Linked DNA regions of Homo sapiens. The protein of the gene in region 1 purifies or fractionates together with the protein of each later gene. This does not show direct contact. Each region holds a gene or a part of one and is shown in the gene's direction. Other genes may lie near its edges.

Evidence for each region. The genes of interacting proteins can lie anywhere in the genome.
Region 2: the proteins of MAP3K2 (region 1) and LSM14A purify together in Homo sapiens (affinity purification with mass spectrometry; one large-scale study listed by BioGRID and IntAct). This does not show direct contact.
Region 3: the proteins of MAP3K2 (region 1) and EPB41L2 purify together in Homo sapiens (affinity purification with mass spectrometry; one large-scale study listed by BioGRID and IntAct). This does not show direct contact.
Region 4: the proteins of MAP3K2 (region 1) and WWTR1 purify together in Homo sapiens (affinity purification with western blotting, with the first as the bait; one study listed by BioGRID). This does not show direct contact.

What each region holds. Positions count from the first base shown.
Region 1 is NC_000002.12:127,380,879-127,386,080, reverse strand, and holds part of MAP3K2 (mitogen-activated protein kinase kinase kinase 2), read left to right. Parts: exon of another isoform or gene 1-576; intron 577-5,202. UniProt on the Homo sapiens protein: Component of a protein kinase signal transduction cascade. Regulates the JNK and ERK5 pathways by phosphorylating and activating MAP2K5 and MAP2K7. Plays a role in caveolae kiss-and-run dynamics.
Region 2 is NC_000019.10:34,209,323-34,214,524, forward strand, and holds part of LSM14A (protein LSM14 homolog A), read left to right. Parts: intron 1-5,202. UniProt on the Homo sapiens protein: Essential for formation of P-bodies, cytoplasmic structures that provide storage sites for translationally inactive mRNAs and protect them from degradation. Acts as a repressor of mRNA translation. May play a role in mitotic spindle assembly.
Region 3 is NC_000006.12:130,838,326-130,842,227, reverse strand, and holds the end of EPB41L2 (band 4.1-like protein 2), read left to right. Parts: intron 1-1,629; 3' UTR 1,630-2,881; downstream 2,882-3,902. UniProt on the Homo sapiens protein: Required for dynein-dynactin complex and NUMA1 recruitment at the mitotic cell cortex during anaphase.
Region 4 is NC_000003.12:149,521,505-149,526,706, reverse strand, and holds part of WWTR1 (WW domain-containing transcription regulator protein 1), read left to right. Parts: intron 1-581; coding exon 582-694; intron 695-5,202. UniProt on the Homo sapiens protein: Transcriptional coactivator which acts as a downstream regulatory target in the Hippo signaling pathway that plays a pivotal role in organ size control and tumor suppression by restricting proliferation and promoting apoptosis.

The sequences.
Region 1 (5,202 bases):
TCTGTGGAGAAAAGGTGAAATTACAAAGTTAACATGTGGATGGTTTACAGATTGATTTGTTGTTTGGTTAAAATATAAACATGTTGAATCTTATTGAATTATGTTGTATATGATATCATTATAGAATGGTTATCCATGTGCCTCTTTTGAGAAACTAGCTGTTAAAGGCTTATCTTAAATAATTGGATTGCATTAGAGACTGAGTCTTATAAGCAATGTTTTAGGGGGAGCTTTTGTTTCTAGTTTACTTTATTGGTACCAAAGGGTTAAACTAACAGGTGCTGTATTAAAATAAAGTCATGTTTGATACTCTGCATTTCCTACAGCGTTGGTTTCAGGTTGATTTTCTCTTTCCCTATAGAATTGGAGCTATTTCCCCCCACCTCCCACTTTTTATTATCAAACAATTTCAAGCATACAGAAAATTTGGTAATAGTAAACCACTTGTATCTTGACCCTCTAGATTAAACATTTGTTGTTATCTTGCCATATTTGCTTTATCTATAGGTACATGTACAGGCATACCTTAGAGAGATTGTGGCTTTGGTTCCAGACCACTGCAATAAAGGAAAAGAAGTGAGTCACATAAACTTTTTAGTTTCACGGTGCATATAGTTATGTTTACAATATACTGTAGTCTATTGTGTGCAATGGCATTATGTCTAAAAAAAGTATATACCTTAATTAAAAAATTATTTATTGCTAAAAATTTCTAAAGAAATTTGAGCCTTTAGGGAATTGTAATCTTTTTGCTGGTGGAGGGTCTTGCCTCCATGTTGATGGCTGCTGACTAGTAAGGATGGTTGATAAGGGGTGGTTGTTGAAGTTTGGGATGGCTGAGGCAATTTCTTAAAGTAAGACATTAGTGAAGTTTGCCGCATCGATGGACTCTTCCTTTCAGGAAAGATTTCACTCTGGCATGTGATACTGTTTGATAACATTTTACTCACCATAGAACATTTTTCAAAATTGGAGTCAGTCCTTTCAAACCCTTCATCAACTAATTGCTTATCACCTATCATCTAAGTTGCTTATCGTTGCTTTATCAACTAAGTTTTTGTAATCTAAGTCCTTTGTTGCTACTTCAATAATATTCACATCATCTTCACTAGGAGTAGATTCCATCTCAAGAAGCCACTTTCTGTCCAGGCGTAATGGGGTCACGCTTATAATCCCAGCAGTTTGGGAGGCTGAGGCAGGAGGATTGCTTGCGCCAAGGAATTCAAGAACAGCGTGGGCAACATGGCAAAATCCCATTAAAAAAATATAGAGGTTAGCCGGTTGTGGTGATTTGGGAAGCTGAAGCAGGGAGAGTGCTTGAGCCGGGGAGGGGAGGTCAGGGCTGCAGTGAGCTGTGGCAGTGCAGACCAGCCTGGGCAACAGAGCAAGACCCTGTCTTAAAAAAAAAAAAAGGCCACTTTGTTTCCTCATCCATAAGAAGCAACTTTTCATCTGTTCAAGTTTTAGCTCTGCTTCTAATTGTAGTTCTCTTGCTCTTTCCGTCACATCTACAGTTACTTCCTCCACTGAAGTCTTAAACCCCTCAAAGTCATCCATGAGGGCTGGAATCAGCTTCTTCCAAATTCCTGTTAATGTTGATATTTTGACCTCCTCCCATGAATCATCAGTGTTCTTAATGGCATCTAGAATGATGAATCCTTTCCAGAAGGTTTTCAATTTACTTTGCTCAGATCTGTCAGAAGAATCTGATCACTGTCTATGGTAGTTATAGCCTTACAAAATGTATTTCGTTTGTTTTTCTTTTTTTAGTTTCACAGTGCGTATAAAGTTATGTTTACAATATACTGTAGTCTGTTAAGTGTGCAATGACATTCTAAAAAAGCAATATATATATATATATATATATCAATTAAAAATTATTTGTTGGCCGGGCACGGTGGCTCACGCCTGTAATCCCAGCACTTTGGGAGGCCGAGGCGGGCAGATCACGAGGTCAGGAGATCAAGACCATCCTGGCTAACAGGATGAAACCCCGTCTTTACTAAAAATACAAAACAAACAAACAAACAAAAAAAACCACTAGCCGGGCATGGTGGCGGGTGCCTGTAGTCCCAGCTACTCGGGAGGCTGAGGCAGGAGAATGGCGTGAACCCGGGAGGTGGAGCTTGCGGTGAGCAGAGATGGCGCCACTGCACTCCAGTCTGGGTGACAGAGCGAGACTCCATCTCAAAAAAAAAAAAAAAAATTATTTGTTGCCAAAAAAATGCTAGAAGAACATCTGAGCCTGGCTCAGGCTAGCCTAATTTTTTTATTTTTATTTCTATTTTTAGAGTTAGCATCTCAATGTGTTGCTCAGGCTGGTTGCAAACTCTTTGCCTCAGATGGTCCTCCCACTTTGGCCTCCCAAAATGTTGAGATTACAGGCATGAGCCACTGTCCTGGCTGTATTTCTTAAATTAGGAAATGCATCCAAGTTGGAAAAGTCAAAATACCCTATTCCCTGATGACATGATCTCTGTCATATTTAGAAAAACCTAAGGATGCCACCAAAAACCTCTTGAATTTGACAAATAATCCAGTAAAGTGTCAATACAAAATCAGTGTACAAAAATGAGGAGCATTTCTATACACCAATGACGATCCAACTGAAAACTAAATCAAGAAAGCAATCTTCAAAAAAAGAAAAAATCCACCTAGAAATGTATTTAACCAAGGAGGTAACAGATCTCTATAAGGAGAACTACAAAGTCCTGATGTAAGAAATTCTAGATGACACAGACAAACGGAAAAACATCCCATACTCGTTGATTGGAAGAATCAGTTTTGTCAAAGTGACCATACAACCTGATATGGGTTGTTTATTTGTCTCCTCCAAGTCTCATGTTGAAATGCAATCCCCAGTGTTGGAAGTGGGGCCTGGTGGGAGGTGACTGGATCATGGGGGTGGGTGCCTCATGAATGGCTTAGCAGCGTCCCCTTGATGATGAGCAAGTTCATGTGAGATCTGGTTGTTTAAAAATGTGTGGCATCTCTCCACTCTCTCACTTGCTCCTGCTCTTGCCAAGTGAGGTCCTTGCTCCCACTTTGCCTTATGTCATGAGACCTCACCAGAGGCCAAGCAGGTGCCAGCACCATGCTTCCAGTCCAGCTTGCTGAACCGTGAGCCAATTAAACCTCTCTTCTTTATAAATTACCAAGCCTGAGGTTTTTCTTAAGAGCAATGCAAGAATGGCCTAATACACTACTCAAAGCAATCTGCAGATTGAAGGCAACCCCTATCAATATACCGACATCTGCTGGGTAGAGTGGCTCATGCCTGTAATCCCAGCACTTGGGGAGGCCAAGGCAGGCGGATCACCTGAGGTCAGGAGTTTAAGACCAGCCTGACCAACATGGTGAAACCCTGTCTCTACTAAAAATACAAAAATTAGTGGGACGAGGTGCCAGTAGTCCCAGATACTTGGGAGGCTGAGGCAGGAGAACTGCTTGAACCCAAGAGATGGAGGCTGCAGTAAGCCAAGATCGTGCTGCTGCACTTCATCCTGGGCAATAGAGTGAGTCAATTTGTAAGAAAACACATTATTATCTGTGAAGCACAATGAAAAGTGAAATAAAACAAGGTATACCTCTACTGAAAGAAGAAAACTATCAAACTAGAATTCTAGATCCTGGAACTATGTATTTCAAAAATAAAGGAGAAATAAACACTTCCAGATATCTTTTTTTAAAAAACACTATGAAGCAGAATAAAATGAAGCTCAATAAAATGAGATATACTTGTATATTATTTTCAGCTGAACTCTTTGAAACTAAGCTATGGACATTATGACATTTTACCTCTCAATATGTCACATGCATCTCCTAAAGTTAAGGACATTTTCTTACATAGCCAAAATACCATTATTGTTACTTTTCTTAGGTGCGATACTTCTTTCATATACTCTAATATATATCCATATTTACATCTCATTCGTACTGAATTGTCATTTGTGGTTTGTACACCCATCCCCACCAAATCAGGATTTCATCAAAGTTTATTCATTGCATTTAGTTGTTAAGGCTTTTTGATCTCTTATAGTCTACAGCAGTCTCACCTCTTACACCCTTTAAAAATGACAATGATTTTTTTTAAGAGATCAAGACAGTTGTCTTATAAAGTGACTCATATTCTCGATTTGTCAGATTCCACCCCCCTCCCCCCGTCATAGCATTGTTTAGCTTGTTCCTGTATTCCCCCATACCAGTTGTTAAGTGTAAACTAGATTTAAAGGGTCGATTAGTTTTAATTTCAACATTTTGGACAAGAATACCTAATAAGTGATTTAATATATTTTATATGCCTCCCATTAGGAGACGTACACTGTGCAGTCCCATTATTTGTGATACTAAGTTTGATTGCTTGGTTGAGAGGAGTAAGGTGAGGTATATTTTTCTCACTGCAGTCAGCAAGTAATCTGTGGCATGATAAATTAGCACTGTAATGCTAGCCTGTTCTCCAGTGATCTTTTACCTAATAGTTGTGGTATCTTTTGCTGATCCTTGTCAGGCTAACTTTTAAATTTCAGTGTTAATAAATGTTTGTTGGTCTATAGATGGAAACAAATCACAGGAATTAAAAAATATCCAGCTAGGTTAATCAGAATCTGATTTTGTGGATTTTAAAGATTTTAACAAAGTATTCAAAGTATCGTTTGTTACGAATTTTATAAGAAACCTGGCTTGAAAAATGGGAATAACTCAATGCTGGTCTTCTGTACTCTTAAGAAGTGCATTTAAATTTTTCTTAGATAACATCTACTGCACAAGAATAACCCAGAAATACAATATAAAGGAAGGGTGGATCTACTAAAATACATTTTGAGAAAATTGTCTATTTTCTGATGTAATGGGAGGAACACTGGATTGAGAGTCAGAAGATCATTCCTACCATTATATGAAGTTTAAGAATTACAAATTTTTGAGCTGGGCTGTGTGGTGCATGCCTCAACTACTCAGGAGGTTAAGGCAGGAGAATCCCTTTAGCCCAGGAGTTGGAGGGCATCCTGGGCAACATAGCAAGACCCTGTATCAAAAATCAGGAAAAAAAGAAGGATAAATTTTTAAACTTTACTGCATGTTCTTATTTCATAGTGATTGCTTTAGTAAACATTTATGAATAAAGAATGAATTTCTGATGAGATATGTTTGTAGTGAACTTCATTTTTATGAAGCCAGTTATAAGTAAATCAAATGTATGTAATA
Region 2 (5,202 bases), on another chromosome or scaffold:
GTAACACTTAAATATATCAAATTAGGCTCATACTCACCATTAAAGTTGAGCTATCCAAGATGAATTGGAAATATCATCTGAAAAAAACTGTATTATGCTGTTAACATTTTCCCTAACATCCTCACAGGATGGAGAGTAGTGGTTCTCAGTGTAGGCTACCCACAACTGAATCATCTGGGGTGCTTCTTAAAAATTTAAATCCTGAGACTTATACATCAGAATCCCTGGAGCCTGAGGATTTATATTTTAATAAGCTTCTTAAAGGATTGTTTTATTTCTTAAGATTCTGCTCTTCAACCAGCCAGTCTCATAATTTTAAATGGTTATCCATACCTTTTATTCTTATCTTTGTTTCTTCCTTTTTTCTTAATCTTTTTCTTTCTTTTATTTACTTATTAGAGATGAGGTCTCCCTGTATTGCCCAGGCTGGTCTCGAACTCCTGGGCTCAAGCGATCCATTTGCCTTGGCCTCCCCAAAGTGTTGGGATGTTGGGATTACAGGCGTGAGCCATTGGGCCTGGCTTTTTTTTTTTTTTTAAAGATAGGTCTCACTATGCTGCCCAAACTGAAATGCAGTGGCTATTTACAGATGTGATCATAGTGCACTGCAGCCTTGGACACCTGGCCCCAAACAAGCCTCCCACTTTAGCTTCCCCAGTAGCTGGGGCTACAGCCTTGTGCCACCATGCTCGGCTTTTCCTTATCTATTTTTATGCACTTTAGAAATGGGTATTTTTGGCTCATTGCTTTATATGAATGGTTTTTGTTTTGTTTTGTTTTTAAGTAAAACAATGTTGAGTCATTTCAGAAAGACCTATAGTCACAAGACAGTATTTTAAAAAGCTATTAAGGGTAAAAATTCAATGCTAAACATAATCTTATGTATTTCACTTAAGATATTTTGAAATAGTTCTTACTGTTACTCATATTGATTAGCTTAATTTTTTTCTTTTTTTTTTTCTTTTAAGATGGAGTCTTGCTCTGTCACCCAGACTGGAGTGCAGTGGCACAATCTCGGCTCACTGCAACCTCCACCTCCCAGGTTCAAGCGATTCTCCTGCCTCACCCTCCCAAATAGCTGGGATTACAGGCACGTGCCACCACGCCCAGCTCATTTTTTTGTATTTTTGGTAGAGATGTGGTTTCGTGATGTTGGCCAGGCTGGTCTCAAACTCCTGACCTCAAGTGATCCACCTGCCTTGGCCTCCCAAAGTGCTGGGATTGTAGATGTGAGCCACTGCGTCCAGCCTACTTGCTTAATTTTTAAACATTCTAAAGATTGTTTGTTTGTTTTTTGAGATAGGGTCCTGCTCTGTCTCCCAGACTGGAATGCAGTGGTGTGATCATGGCTCACTGCAGCCTCTACCTCCTGAGCTCAGGCCATCCTCCCAATTAGCTGAGATCACAAGCAAGCACCACCAGCTAGTTTTGTAGGGACGGGGTTTCGCCATGTTGCCAAGGCTGGTCTGGAACTCCTGGGCTCAAGTGATCCACCCACCTTGGCCTCCCAAAGTGCTGGGATTATAGGCATGAGCCACAGTGCCCGGCCTATTCTGGAATTTTTAGTTAAATCAGGAACACATGAAAAAGAAGCATAAATATTGAAATTAGCATTATTCATGAAGAATGAGAACTAATAAGGAACTTAAATTAGGCACAGGCAAAATGTAAATTAAATATACAAAAGTCAATAGTTCTGGCCGGGCACGATGGCTCATGCCTGTAATCCCAGCACTTTGGGAGGCCAAGGCAGGCGGATCGCCTGAGGTCAGGGGTTCGAGACCAGCCTGGCCAACCAACATGGTGAAACCCCATCTCTACTAAAAATACAAAAATTAGCCGGGCATGGTGGCGTGCACCTGTAATCCCAGCTACTCAGGAGGCTGAGGTGGGAGAACCCGGGAGGCAGAGGTTGCAGTGAGCCGAGATCACGCTACTGCACTCCAGCTTGGGCGACAGAGCGAGACTCCATCTTAAAAAAAAAAAAAATTTAATAGTCCTAAAGCCTAATCCATTGATTATGTAATGAGGAGAAAAGATGATTACAGTAATGCAAAATAGAAATTGTATACAAAATATATAATAAGAAATAAGTTGGTCATACTAAGAAATATGACCAACTTCTATGATAAATAATGTAAGACAGGGACATAAAAGTTGCATGTAATGGAAAAAACATATCTTATTGCTAGATAGAAGAACAAGAACAGTACCAGCACTTAGGGAGGCAAAGCCAGGATGATCACTTGAGCCCACGAGTTTGAGACCAGCCTGAGCAACGTAGTGAAACTTCATCTCTACCAAAAAATTTTAAAAATAAGCAGAGTATGATGGTGGACACCTGTGGTCCTAGCTACTCAAGAGGCTGAGACAGGAGGATCACTTGAGCCCAGGAGGCCGAGGCTGCAGTGAGCCCTAACTGCACTACCTCACTCCAGCCTGGGCGACAGAACCAAGACCCTGTCCCCCCCCAAAAAAAAAAGATGTTGGGAAGACTTTACTCCTCATAGTTAACAAATTTATTGCAAATTAATTAAAAATCAATGCAAATAGAATAGTAGGAGAACTTAGTAAAACAGTTTATCTTTAAAATAAACATGGAAGTGTGGCTGGACATATTTGAAAAATAAAAGTAATGGGTTTACTGACATGATAATAAAATGTAGCAATGCAGGAAAAAAGAAAGAGATGAATAGAAAGCAATAGGCAGGCAGAAACAGATCCGAGTATAAATAAGAATTTATCCTGGGTGCAGTGGTTCATGCCTGAAACCCTAACATTTTGCGAGTTCAAGATGGAAGCCAGGGATTTGAGACTAGCCTGGGCAACATACCAGGACCCTGTCTCTAAAAAAATTAAAAATTAGTTGGGCGTGATGTGTGCGCCTATCAGCTTGAGAGGCTGAAGCTAGAGGATTGCTTGAGCCCAGGAGGTTAAGGTGGCAGCAAGCTGTGATTGCGGCCCTGCACACTAGCCTAGGCAACAGAGCAAGAATTCATCTTAAAAGAATTTAGTAGATGATAAAGGTATTATTTTAAATTAGTGGAGAGAAGGCTGTCTGTTCCAATTAATAATGTTGCCTGATCATTTGGAGAAAGTCACTCTAGATTCTTTCCCTCATACTGAGCACCAAAAAATATATAAATTTTAAATAGATTAAAATGTTAAAAATTTTGAAGTATGTGTTTATTAAAAGAAAGAGGTGTATTTACATAAAGTTATGACAAATGACAAGTCCTAAGAGTTTGCATTTAAGTTTTATCAACTAAAATTGCTGAATTTCACAAAATTAAAATTCCTAGAATTTTAAGTGTGATAAGATTGTGAAGATAGCTCAAGGGAGTGTGTCTATAATATGCAGAAATCACTTCTGGATTTATTCCTAATAATGTATCCAGTATCACAGTATCACCTGTATTTCCCTGTTTATAACAAAACTGGCATCATGATGATTAGTAGGCCTTAATAGTGAAAAGGCTTTTTAAGTACACAACAAATGTTTCTGTACTTGCTCCGATTGCCCCATTGCTTGTACTTCTGTAGTACTTGTGAGCCATAGGATCTTTTCTCAAAAGCCTTGATAAAGAAGTTTTATAAACTTATAAGATGATTTAATGTAGTACCATAAAATTAACTGTAGCAGTAGGCTTTTTCAGGAAGACATGTGAAATAAAAAAAATTAGCAAGGTGTGGTAGCGCACATCTATAGTCCTAGCTACTCAAGAGGCTGAGGCAGGAAGATCATTGGGTCCCAGGAGTTAGAAGTTGCAGCGAGCTGTGATTGCGCCACTGCACTCCAGCCAGAGCAACAGAACAAGACCCTATCCTGTCCCTAAAAAACAAAAAACAAAATGTGTTTTATAAGTGATTATAAAATGTTTTTTTCATAGGCCAAAACTTACATAAACCATGATTTCCCATTATAATCCAGTGGAAAAATTGTAATGCTTCTATTAGTGGTAACTTAATTTTGAAATGTTAAGTAGATTGTGCCTGTGTCGGTTTCTGGGTTTTGATAAATGATCATTTATTTGGCTAACTTTGCCATTAATGGCTGAAATGGTATTGCACATTTGTAAGTGCATACTTTAGATAATCATAAATTGGGGAAATATTACTAATAAATTATCCCTGAATCATCTAGGTACATAATAATGCATTGTCAGCACTCACCAGTTGTTTGACACCTGCAAATATGCACAGATGGACAGTAACATTTGCAGCATATTTGGGGGATTTTTTTACGTGAAATGAGCATTTTTTTTAAGCAAAACATTATATTTTGGAATAATTATGAGATGTGAGTGCCTAAGCAGAGATGTACAGCAAACATTATCAGGACAGAAAGCATGATGGGAGCACCCGATGTTACATTCTTCAGTTCATGCTGTGACCAGGCGACCTCATAAAAGGAAAAATATAATGTATAAGTACAAACCCCATTTTTTGTTTTGGCTCTTTTATATTTGTATTTTTTGAGACAGAGTCTAGTTTTGTCACCCAGGCTGGATGCAGTGGACCGATCTCGGCTCACTACAACCTCTGCCTCCCAGGCTCAAGCAATCCACCCACTTCAGCCCCCTGAGTAGCTGGGGTTACAGGCATGTGCCACCACACCTGGCTAATTTTTGTATTTTTTTTGTAGAGACAGGCTTTCGCCATGTTGTTCAGGCTGGTCTCGAACTCCTGAGCTCAAGCGATCTGCCCATCTCAGCCTCCCAAATTGCTGGGATTATAGGTGTGAGCAACCGCGCCCAGCCAAACCCCATATTAAGCAAAAACTTGCCAAGAGATCTTTTAAAAGGCAAGGAATGAGTATGGCTACTGTGTAATTATCTGAAGGGTTTTTTTTGTTTGTTTTTTGGTTTTGTTTGTTTGTTTTTTTGCTGGCCTTTTAGTTTTTATGTTTAATTACCCAAGCCCCTAAAGCATTAAAGAACTTCACCTATCTAACTTTGTAGTTCTTTTACTTTATTTATTTATTTATTTATTTATTTATTTATTTATGAGACAGGGCCTTGCTCTGTCACCTAGGCTAGAGTGCAGTGGCACAATCTCGGCTCACTGCAGCTTCTGCCTCCCGGGTTCAAGCTATCCCATCTCAGCCTCCTGAGTAGCTGGGAACACAGGCACGCGCCACCACGCCTGGCTAATTTTTGTATTTTCAGTAGAGACAGGGTTTCGCCATGTTGCCTAGGCTGG
Region 3 (3,902 bases), on another chromosome or scaffold:
AAACAATGAAGTTGATTAATCAATCTGTCCTGAATAATCAAGAGGCTTTAATATTATCTGTGATAAATCTAAATGGTAGGAACTTTTTTCATTAAAGCAAGACTTAATTTTACCTAACCAAAAGAGTGTACATTCTAATTGACTTTGGGAGCAGTGTCTCTTGGAAAAGACGTTAATTACCACTCTGCACTGTCCTTTGTGATTACCTATCATTTGCCAAAACTTCCAACCAAGTTCAAATATAAAATGAAACAATTGCCACCTTAAAACCCTTTTCTCTTTCAGGGCCATTGCACCATCATGGGTTTTTTAAAAAGTCTTCTCCACTTACCTTTGATTGTGGACTTCTGCAAGACTCTGTGGCTTTCATTTATTCCTATGCTCACATGAGACTTAGTTCTATCTGTTGGTTTCACTTATCCCTTGTTCTGATGCCCAAATCTATATCCCTAGGTCTAATGCTTCACCCAGGCTGTAAGCCTTCATTCTCTCCTTTTTTTGAGGTCCCAGACTCCAAACCTTATCATCCTGTCTTATACTTACTTCTTAACCACCACACTCTGATTATTCTCCTTAGTGGTGCCTCTCAAATTTCTCTCCCACCTGATTTCTGTGGTGACCACTCAAGTCTGGGTCCTGGCCATCTGGCAGGAATGCCTGACATTTGTCATCTTCCTCATCCAGCTGGACTCCTGCACTGGTCTCCTGACTGTTGTTCCTGCCTCTACTCCTTGCCGGCTTCAGCTTATTCATCACACTGAAGCCACAGCAGTGTTTTCAAAACGTAAATCACACCATGACAAACCCTTCCTCAAAACCAAAGAAGAAACGATCCCAACCTCCTTTCCTGGGCTTATCATGCCCTGCATGACTGGCCAACCCCAAGTTCTTTGACCAGTCTTCTATCTCTCTGTGGCTCTTGCACTCTGCCCTGGACCATTGTAGTAGATTGCCAACTGGTCTTTTCGTCCAAATGTTTTTTCTTAATTCATTTTTTTTTTTTTTTGGTCAATTAGATCAAGCTGGTACTTCTCAGTCTATTAAAGAATAGACCTAATATTTTGTACCTTTATTTACTACTCACTATACCAATGCTCAACTTTAGTAATGTCCCTTTCTTCACCGTCCTATTCCTTCCATTCGTTTCTGCCTCCTCCCCCAACATACATCTTACTGTCATAATACTGTGTACTTCTTCACCTCCATGCCTCTTTCCTCATTGTGTTTTTCCACCTGAAGCACCATTTCCATTCGTTTTAGCACAAAGAAAATAGACTTTGACTTTCCCTTTCCCTGAGTATAGCTTTAAAACCTACCTTGGTTTCTGTCTTTAAATTCTTACATATGAATTGTCTCTGTTTTATGCTAATAAATTCTTTTGCAGTGAACTCTTATTTGCCAGTTGCTTCTAGCGTACTTGTCAATTCTCCAGGTATTTTAAGGCCCTCGAGAGTGGAATAGTGTCTCATGCTTGTCTTCTGGTAAACATACTATTTAATGTAAGACTAGGCAGACAGTAACTGTTGATTACTTGATTGAAAACTTGATGAATGTTACTTAACATTTTTTTCAAGCCTGTGTTTTTGGAATATTTAAGCCTTCTGTTTTTTTTTTTTTTTTCTCTTCTAGAAAGTCATTTTTTAAACAACACTCAACTTTGTGAACCCCTGAAGATTTTTTGACCGTTCCAAGTCTTAATGCCACACCACTATTCCAGCGAATTTATGCTACAACTGGTAACAATGACCAGAAGCCTGAAGAATTAAAATGCCAACACCAAACCTTTCCTTACCAGCTCTGGTCTATATTGCTCCCATGCATTTAATATATTATTTTGTTTTATAACCACTTCTAAATATTCTCAGTTCTTTCTTTTTGTTGTTGTTAATTAAGGGGTTTTGGTTTTGTTTTCTGTTTACTTTGTGTGCAACTACCTGCTTTTAATGACTCACTTTGATCAAATGACAGTGAACAAAGCCAGCCCAAGCTGGTAAGGTGCTGTTCACTTGAACAGGTGCTGTTGCGCAGAAAGGAAACTCTGTGACTAATTTAGATAGTGGCTTTCCTTCTTCTGGATTCTTTTCATTGAATTCTCACAGTAAATATTTACGGAGTTTTCAAATTGCAGCAAATATACTGTATGAGAAAATATTAATACAGATTAAAAGCCTTTCTTACATCTTGAAAATTTTCTAATATTTGAGAATTTCACAGGGATGTTTTTTATATTGGACCCTTTTGACTTTCCAGTCCTGTGACTTTCTACTTTTAGTAGAGAGTCAGAATCTCTGGACTGGAGAATAATGAAGAAGTTCACTGACTGTGCACTGTGCTTAGAGACCCTGCCGCACCACAGTGCCAATGCTTGTCAGACACATGCCCTTCGGCAGCATTCCAGAACAGGAGGGAAGAGAAAGAGAAAACTTTCTTCCCTTCTACTAAAAGATTCAGGCAGCTTAAAACCTTAGTGCTTTCTTTCTTAACATACCCACATTTCAATTCTTTCCATTATTTGAACACTTGGGTAGAACTCTTGCTTTGTATTAAACCTCTTTGTCTACACATGTAAAACTTACCTTTTGTTATTGAGCAGGCCTATCTCTTTCAGATAGTTTTATGATTCACACAGGTTTGAGGATGCTGGGGAGAGGGGGAGGGGGCTGTGGTGGTGTTCTGTTGGTTACAAGAAAGTTATACCATTTAAAGCTGGCACCAGAGACCCGATAGGGACTTATTAACTATATTGAACATTTTTTCCTTTGCCTTTGACCCTATGTATAGTTACGATGCCAGATTAGATTTATAGCAGCCTCAAGTTGTATTAAATGATATTTTGCTTCCTGTAATACTATTATAAAATAAAGTTTGTTTATTCTCTAAACTTGTCACTTCTCTTTTTCTAAAGGGTTAAAAAAACAAACTTGAGTGATATTTTTCATCAGAAGTCTTAGTATTTTGTGAAAAGTAGCATTTCAAAATCTGTTTTCAGCTCTTCTGTAATTTGATGATGCTGCCAACATCACTATTTGAAACGGTGAAAGCGACGTTGAAAGTTTGTAAATCTAATGTTGAGAGTGCCAGATTCCTTCTGCCTGGTTACATAATCCATTCCAGCTTTTACGAATTCTCCGAGGGATATTTTTGCTTGTTTTCTTTGTGCATTTTTCATTTTGTTTTCAGGAAATATTTTAGCTGTACCATCTGAATCTTGCTCCTCTGCTTCATGTCCTTCTTTACTTTGTGTCCACTGGCCCTCTGTATATCAGGCAAACTAGGCCACTGAGGGGCTGCATCCCAGTCTGATTGGGATGCTTTCTTGTGAAACTTTTGTTGGGGCACACCAGGTTATGGTGTTATTATAGAGCAAATAACCAACAGGGTACATTTCTTGTAAAGTGTTATATAGAATTTTTTTCTCTAGTCATTTAAAGTAAGTACATTAAATACAATTTGCATAACTGTCGTCTTTGAGATCTGTTTCCACTAAATTATCTCTCGCCTTGTGAAAGGCCTTTCTCACTTTCTCTATAATTATTACAAAAACAACAACTCCCTGGAGAATCCGATTCAGCAAGCCAAGCCTTAGAAATATTGTGGAACCAAATGTGATTTTGCAAATGTATGCCTCATCAGAAAGTTTGTATAACACTCACATTGAAATCATAGGTTGCGCTTCCCTGGGTGTTTTGAAGACCATATTTGCAGTGACAGGAAGAAAGTTTGTCTTCACAGGTCCCATGGACTAAGAAAGGTGGTGTGCGGGGATTAGGGCTCGGTTTTATTTAGCTGAGACAGCAAGAACAGGGTTTAGGGTCCTGGGGGCATTGAGAGAATCTATGGGAATTAATACCCACAGAGCCACTTGAAACAATGTTTATACTTATTCCCACCTGTAGCTACAG
Region 4 (5,202 bases), on another chromosome or scaffold:
TAAAGTATTTGAAACACAGAGAAGTACAAAGAATAACATGAATTACCCATGTACCCACTACCCAGATTTGCCATAGTTTTATTTAATCTTACTTTTTAACAAATAAAATATTACAATTAATATTTGAAGCCATCCCCCCACCACTGAAATCTCGTTTCTTTTCCCTTCTGTCCCCAGTGGTAGCCACTATTCAGAAACTGGCGTGTGTCCATCACACAGACTTTTATACCCCTTACTGCCCGTTAGTGTATGTATCCATAAGCAATATTCAACATAGTTTTTGTTTTTTTTTTTTAAAGTTTTACATAAATGGTGTCATACTCTGTATGTTGAAGAATGTTCAAATGGTTATTTTGAGGTGAAAAGGAAATCAATGTCAATTTACTGTGAATGGCCACACATGATTATTTTCATTTTCATGAGGGTATGTATTTCAAAATTAAAACTTTCCTTCCTCCCTAACCTGGAAAGTTGGGCAGCATGGCACAACTGCACTAGTTTAGAGCTTTTGTGACTGTGTTTTAATTTTGAGATTTATTTAGTGGGCTCATATTGAAGTTTCTTCATCTTTTGCTTTGCAGAGGGCCATATCATTCGAGGGAGCAGAGCACTGACAGTGGCCTGGGGTTAGGGTGCTACAGTGTCCCCACAACTCCGGAGGACTTCCTCAGCAATGTGGATGAGATGGATACAGGTAGGAGCAAAGCCTGCAAGCACTTACAATGGGTTTGTGTTTTTTAAATGATCTCTTCGGTTATCTCAATTTTATTTTTCTTTTATTTTATTTTTATAATTTCAACTTTTATTTTATATTTGGGGGTACATGTGCAGGTTTGCTACATGGTTATGTGATGCCGGGGTTTGGGATACGATTGCTCTCGTCACCCAGGTAGTGAGCATAGTACCCAATAGTTTGTTTTTCACCCCTTGTTCCTCCCCACTCCCAGTAGTCCCGAGTGTCTGTAAAAATGTTGAAAAAAAAAAAAATGGAATGCTTCATGAATTTACATGTCATTCTCATGCAGGGGCCATGCTAATCATTCCAGTTTTAGTATAGGTGCTGCCAGAGCGAGTACGGTCATCTCAATTTTAAAATCCAACCAGAAACACTCAATCTCAACGACAACATAAAATAACAGCTGAAAAGCCACTGAACCCCCAGGCACTATTAATAAACTGTAGCCCCTTCCTCATAGATTATACAAGTATAGTTTTACATCTGGGCGCAGGATTTTAAATTCTGTTGTTTTTTTTTTTTAATTCATCTTTGCTCCATATAGTCCCTTCCTCACAATTGCATCAAGACACCACTGTTTGTTTGCCATGTTTCCACATTGGGGTATTTATGCTGTTCTAGTTTTTAGTTGTAATATATGGGCCACCCTTTCTCCTGGAAAGTGACACTGGTTTATAGTTCTAGTATCCAATTTTTTTCATGTCATTCACTGCATTTGAAAAGCAATTGGCAGTGGGTATTTGGAATGCTGAGCAACTCAGAGGATTCAAAATTGTCACTTCCAAGTTCCAACATGGTAACGACATCCTCCCTCAGGAATTAAAGAGAAGAGAGTCAGGGTTACTCTTACCTTGTCCCCAGCCTGTGCATCCTTCAGGTCCAGCCTCACCAGGCTTCCCGATTACCTTTCTTTTTCTCCTTTTCTCAAGGAGTGAGACTTCCAATTGCAGAAACTGAAGTTAGTCTTATTAGCCTTACCTAGACTTAATTATGAAAGTCATAAACTCTAAGAAGATATTCTAGAACCAAAAATAAATGACAGCCAGGGTGTCCACTATTTGGAGTTATTCATGAAAGTTCCTTCTCCATTATCATTGACGAAAGTAATTGTTTTGTGTTGAAAATAAAAAATTCCTTCCCCCAAAGTGTTTGCCATAGTGCCTGTAGTTTTTTACACTCTACTCTTTGATGGCTTCTCTTTGTGTTGTGAGTCTAAATTGTTGGAAAGATCAAGAGTCAAACTCATAGCCAGGTGTCTTACAAATGCAGTACATTAAAGCTGCTCCCCTGGCGTCTTTCGTGTAGGTTGTCATCTTTGCATTGAGAAGATTGCAAAGACTATCTTGTGAGGAGTGACACAGGAATAGTTTGCACTGATTGTTTTACTGTTCTTCAGTTTATTACTTCAGTTCTTCCCCCACCACCACCCCCTGCCACCTTTATCTCTCTCTCTGCTTTTTGAGTGTGAGATTTATTTTGCTATCTTTGGAATAGCCTTAGGAAGTGGCTCCTTCCTATGTTTAATAATTCTTTACTTTCATCTTCTAAACACTGGGAAGCCAGTAAGGATAAAAAGCAAAGTTAAGGAAAAAAGCTCAGGAGATCTAAATCTAAGTTTGACATTCAAAAAAAAAAAAAAAAAACCATAAAAGAGGATGGATTCTACTCTATGTCTCTTTAAAATAACCTCAAGTGGGTAAGTAGGGAGTGTTTTATTTTGAAGCCGTAATGTGGAATTAAATGACGTCCTGAAAAGAACATAGTTTTAGCCAACAGGCAGCCTGATTTGAATCCTTGCTTCTCCATTCCTAGTAGCGCCTTTGGGTAAGTTGCATAACCTCCGTGAGCCTCAGATTTCTCACCCATAAAGTGGGAGTGATATGCTCACGGCAGAGTTGTGAGGAGTCATGAGATCACAGAGACCAGCTCAAAGTGCTCTTCTCCAGTAAGAAGACTGATGTCATACATACAATGGACTTGATAATGTCAGAGTGCCACGTTAACCTGGTTAAGTGAGAATCAGCTCATTGAGTGTGGGAATGTGAGTGCCAAGTTAACCTGGTTAAGTTAGAGTCAGCTCATTGAGTGTGGGGCCACCTCTGTGAAGTCTTTGTAGGAACTGGACATACATCTTCTCAAGGGGAGAAATGTTAATTATACAGTAGCAAAATGAGGGAAGCTGTGGGGGCAGGCAGAGCTCAAGTGTGGCTAGAAAAGATCTATCAGGCCTGTGGACCACGCGCTGGCCACATGCTGAAGGGAAACGAGCCAGCTGAGCACTCCATTTGCAAAACATACATGGCAGCAACAGCTGGGCTTGGTGCGAAGATCCAGTAAAGGGAATAACATGAGCAAAGGCTGGGAAATCATCCATCCTTCCAGAATATTCTGCAGTAATCACACCCTTTTAAGAATTGCCTTGTGGCTGGGCACGGTGGTTCACACCTGTAATCCCAGCACTTTGGTAGGCCGAGGTGGGTGGATCACCTGAGGTTGGGAGTTCAAGACCAGCCTGACCAACATGGAGAAATCTTGTGTCTACTAAGAATACAAAATTAGCTGGGCGTGGTGGCACATGCCTGTGATCCCAGCCACTCGGGAAGCTGAGGCAGGAGAATCACTTGAACCCAGGAGGCGGAGGTTGCAGTGAGCCGAGATTGTGCCATTGCACTCTAGCTTGGGCAGCAAGAGCGAAACTCCATCTCAAAAAAAAAAAAAAGAATTGCCTTGTGTTTGTCTCTTCCACTTTTTAAGTGGATAAACTGCAAAGACCAAAAAGATTACTATGAGATTGCAGAGCTGCTTCTATTTTAAGATTGTTAACTTTAATGAAGAAGCTTAGCCAGTATCCTCATGCCTTCCATCCTGAGAAGAAAGGATAAGAGTAATTTTTTTTTTTTTTTTTAATACGGGGTCTCATTCTGTCACCCAGGCTGGAGTGCAGTGGTGTGATCTCAGCTCATTGCAACCTCTACCTCCTGGATTCAAACGAGTCTCGGGCCTCAGCCTCCTGAGTAGCTGGGATTACAGGGGTGCGCCACCATGCCTGGCACTGTTTTTTTGGGGTTTTTTTGTTTGTTTGTTTGTTGTATTTTTAGTAGAGACAGGGTTTCACCATGTTGGCAAGGCTGTTCTTGAACTCCTGACCTCAGGTGATCCACCCACCTCGGCCTCCCAAAGTGCTGGGATTACAGGCATGAGCCACCACACCCGGCCTAGGAATTCTTTAAAACAGAGATTTTGCTTGGCTAAAAATTATATTCTTGAGTATCTGAAAGTTAAAATGGGAAATTAGTAAAAATGAATGATTCTAACTGGAGATGAAGAGAAAAAAAGGCATCCAGCACATTAGATCAGATTGTTTTTTAGACACTTTTTAAAGCCTCATTTTTATCTGTTACACTCTAGTAAGTAGAAGAAAGTTATTTTGGATTTTGTTTTTTCGTTTAACGTTATTTTTCAATATCAGTAACACTATATTGAGGTCATATTGTTGAATTTGATTTAATTTTTCAGTTTACTACCCTTTGCAATGAAAATACTGTAAAATGTTACCCAGGAGTCATTTATATTTTGTGACTTCTAGAAAAGCCATTGTGTTTTGCTATCACCAAAATCCAAATTGGATGATGGTTCCTTCATCATTTGGAAGGATATAATTTTTCTCCCTGGAAAACACAGATTGCTAAAGTGAACTTTCGGCAATTTTGCTTAAAATAGTGAAACTTCCCTACACACGTTTCAGGAAGGCTACTGCACTTGTAACACACAAAAGATAATTTAACAAGTTTTTAAAAAATGACGTTATGGTGGAAGCTGGCCTTAGTTATCAATGCTTCTCAATTTTTGAAGTAGATATTATCTCTTCAGAAAATTGTTTGGGACTTTTTGAATTAACCTGTTGTTTTGATATTGTGTAATTAATAGTGGCTGAAGACCTGGGTTTTTCTTTCTCTCAGGACAATGAACATTTATTATATTTTTGTATGTATATAACTTTGTATATATCAATGACACCCAGAGCCATGGATATGTGGCAGACACTATATGGCACTTTACTCTAACTTTTGTAAAAGGAGCATATGATCCCAATTTCTAGATGGGTAAACTGAGAATCAGGCAGGTTAAGTGTGTCTAAGCTTACACAGCCACAAAGCTCGATCTAATGACACCAAAGTCAGTAGTGCATTCTGTCCCATACTATGACACATAAAGAACCTATATTCTTCATGTCATATCCCAGACACCTACTTTTCCTCTAGTACAGCATTTTCTCACCTGTGTTCTGTAGAACTTCAGTTTTATTTGAATACACATACTGCCAAAATAGGTTTAGGTGATTAAATGGGTTTAGGAAATAGTGTCTTAAAGAAAACAAAAGATTTCTTTACTCTAAGACTTAAAGCCTTAACATGCTCATATGCACTGTGCTCATATGCTTGTGAGAAAGGCAGATAGTTGTAGGG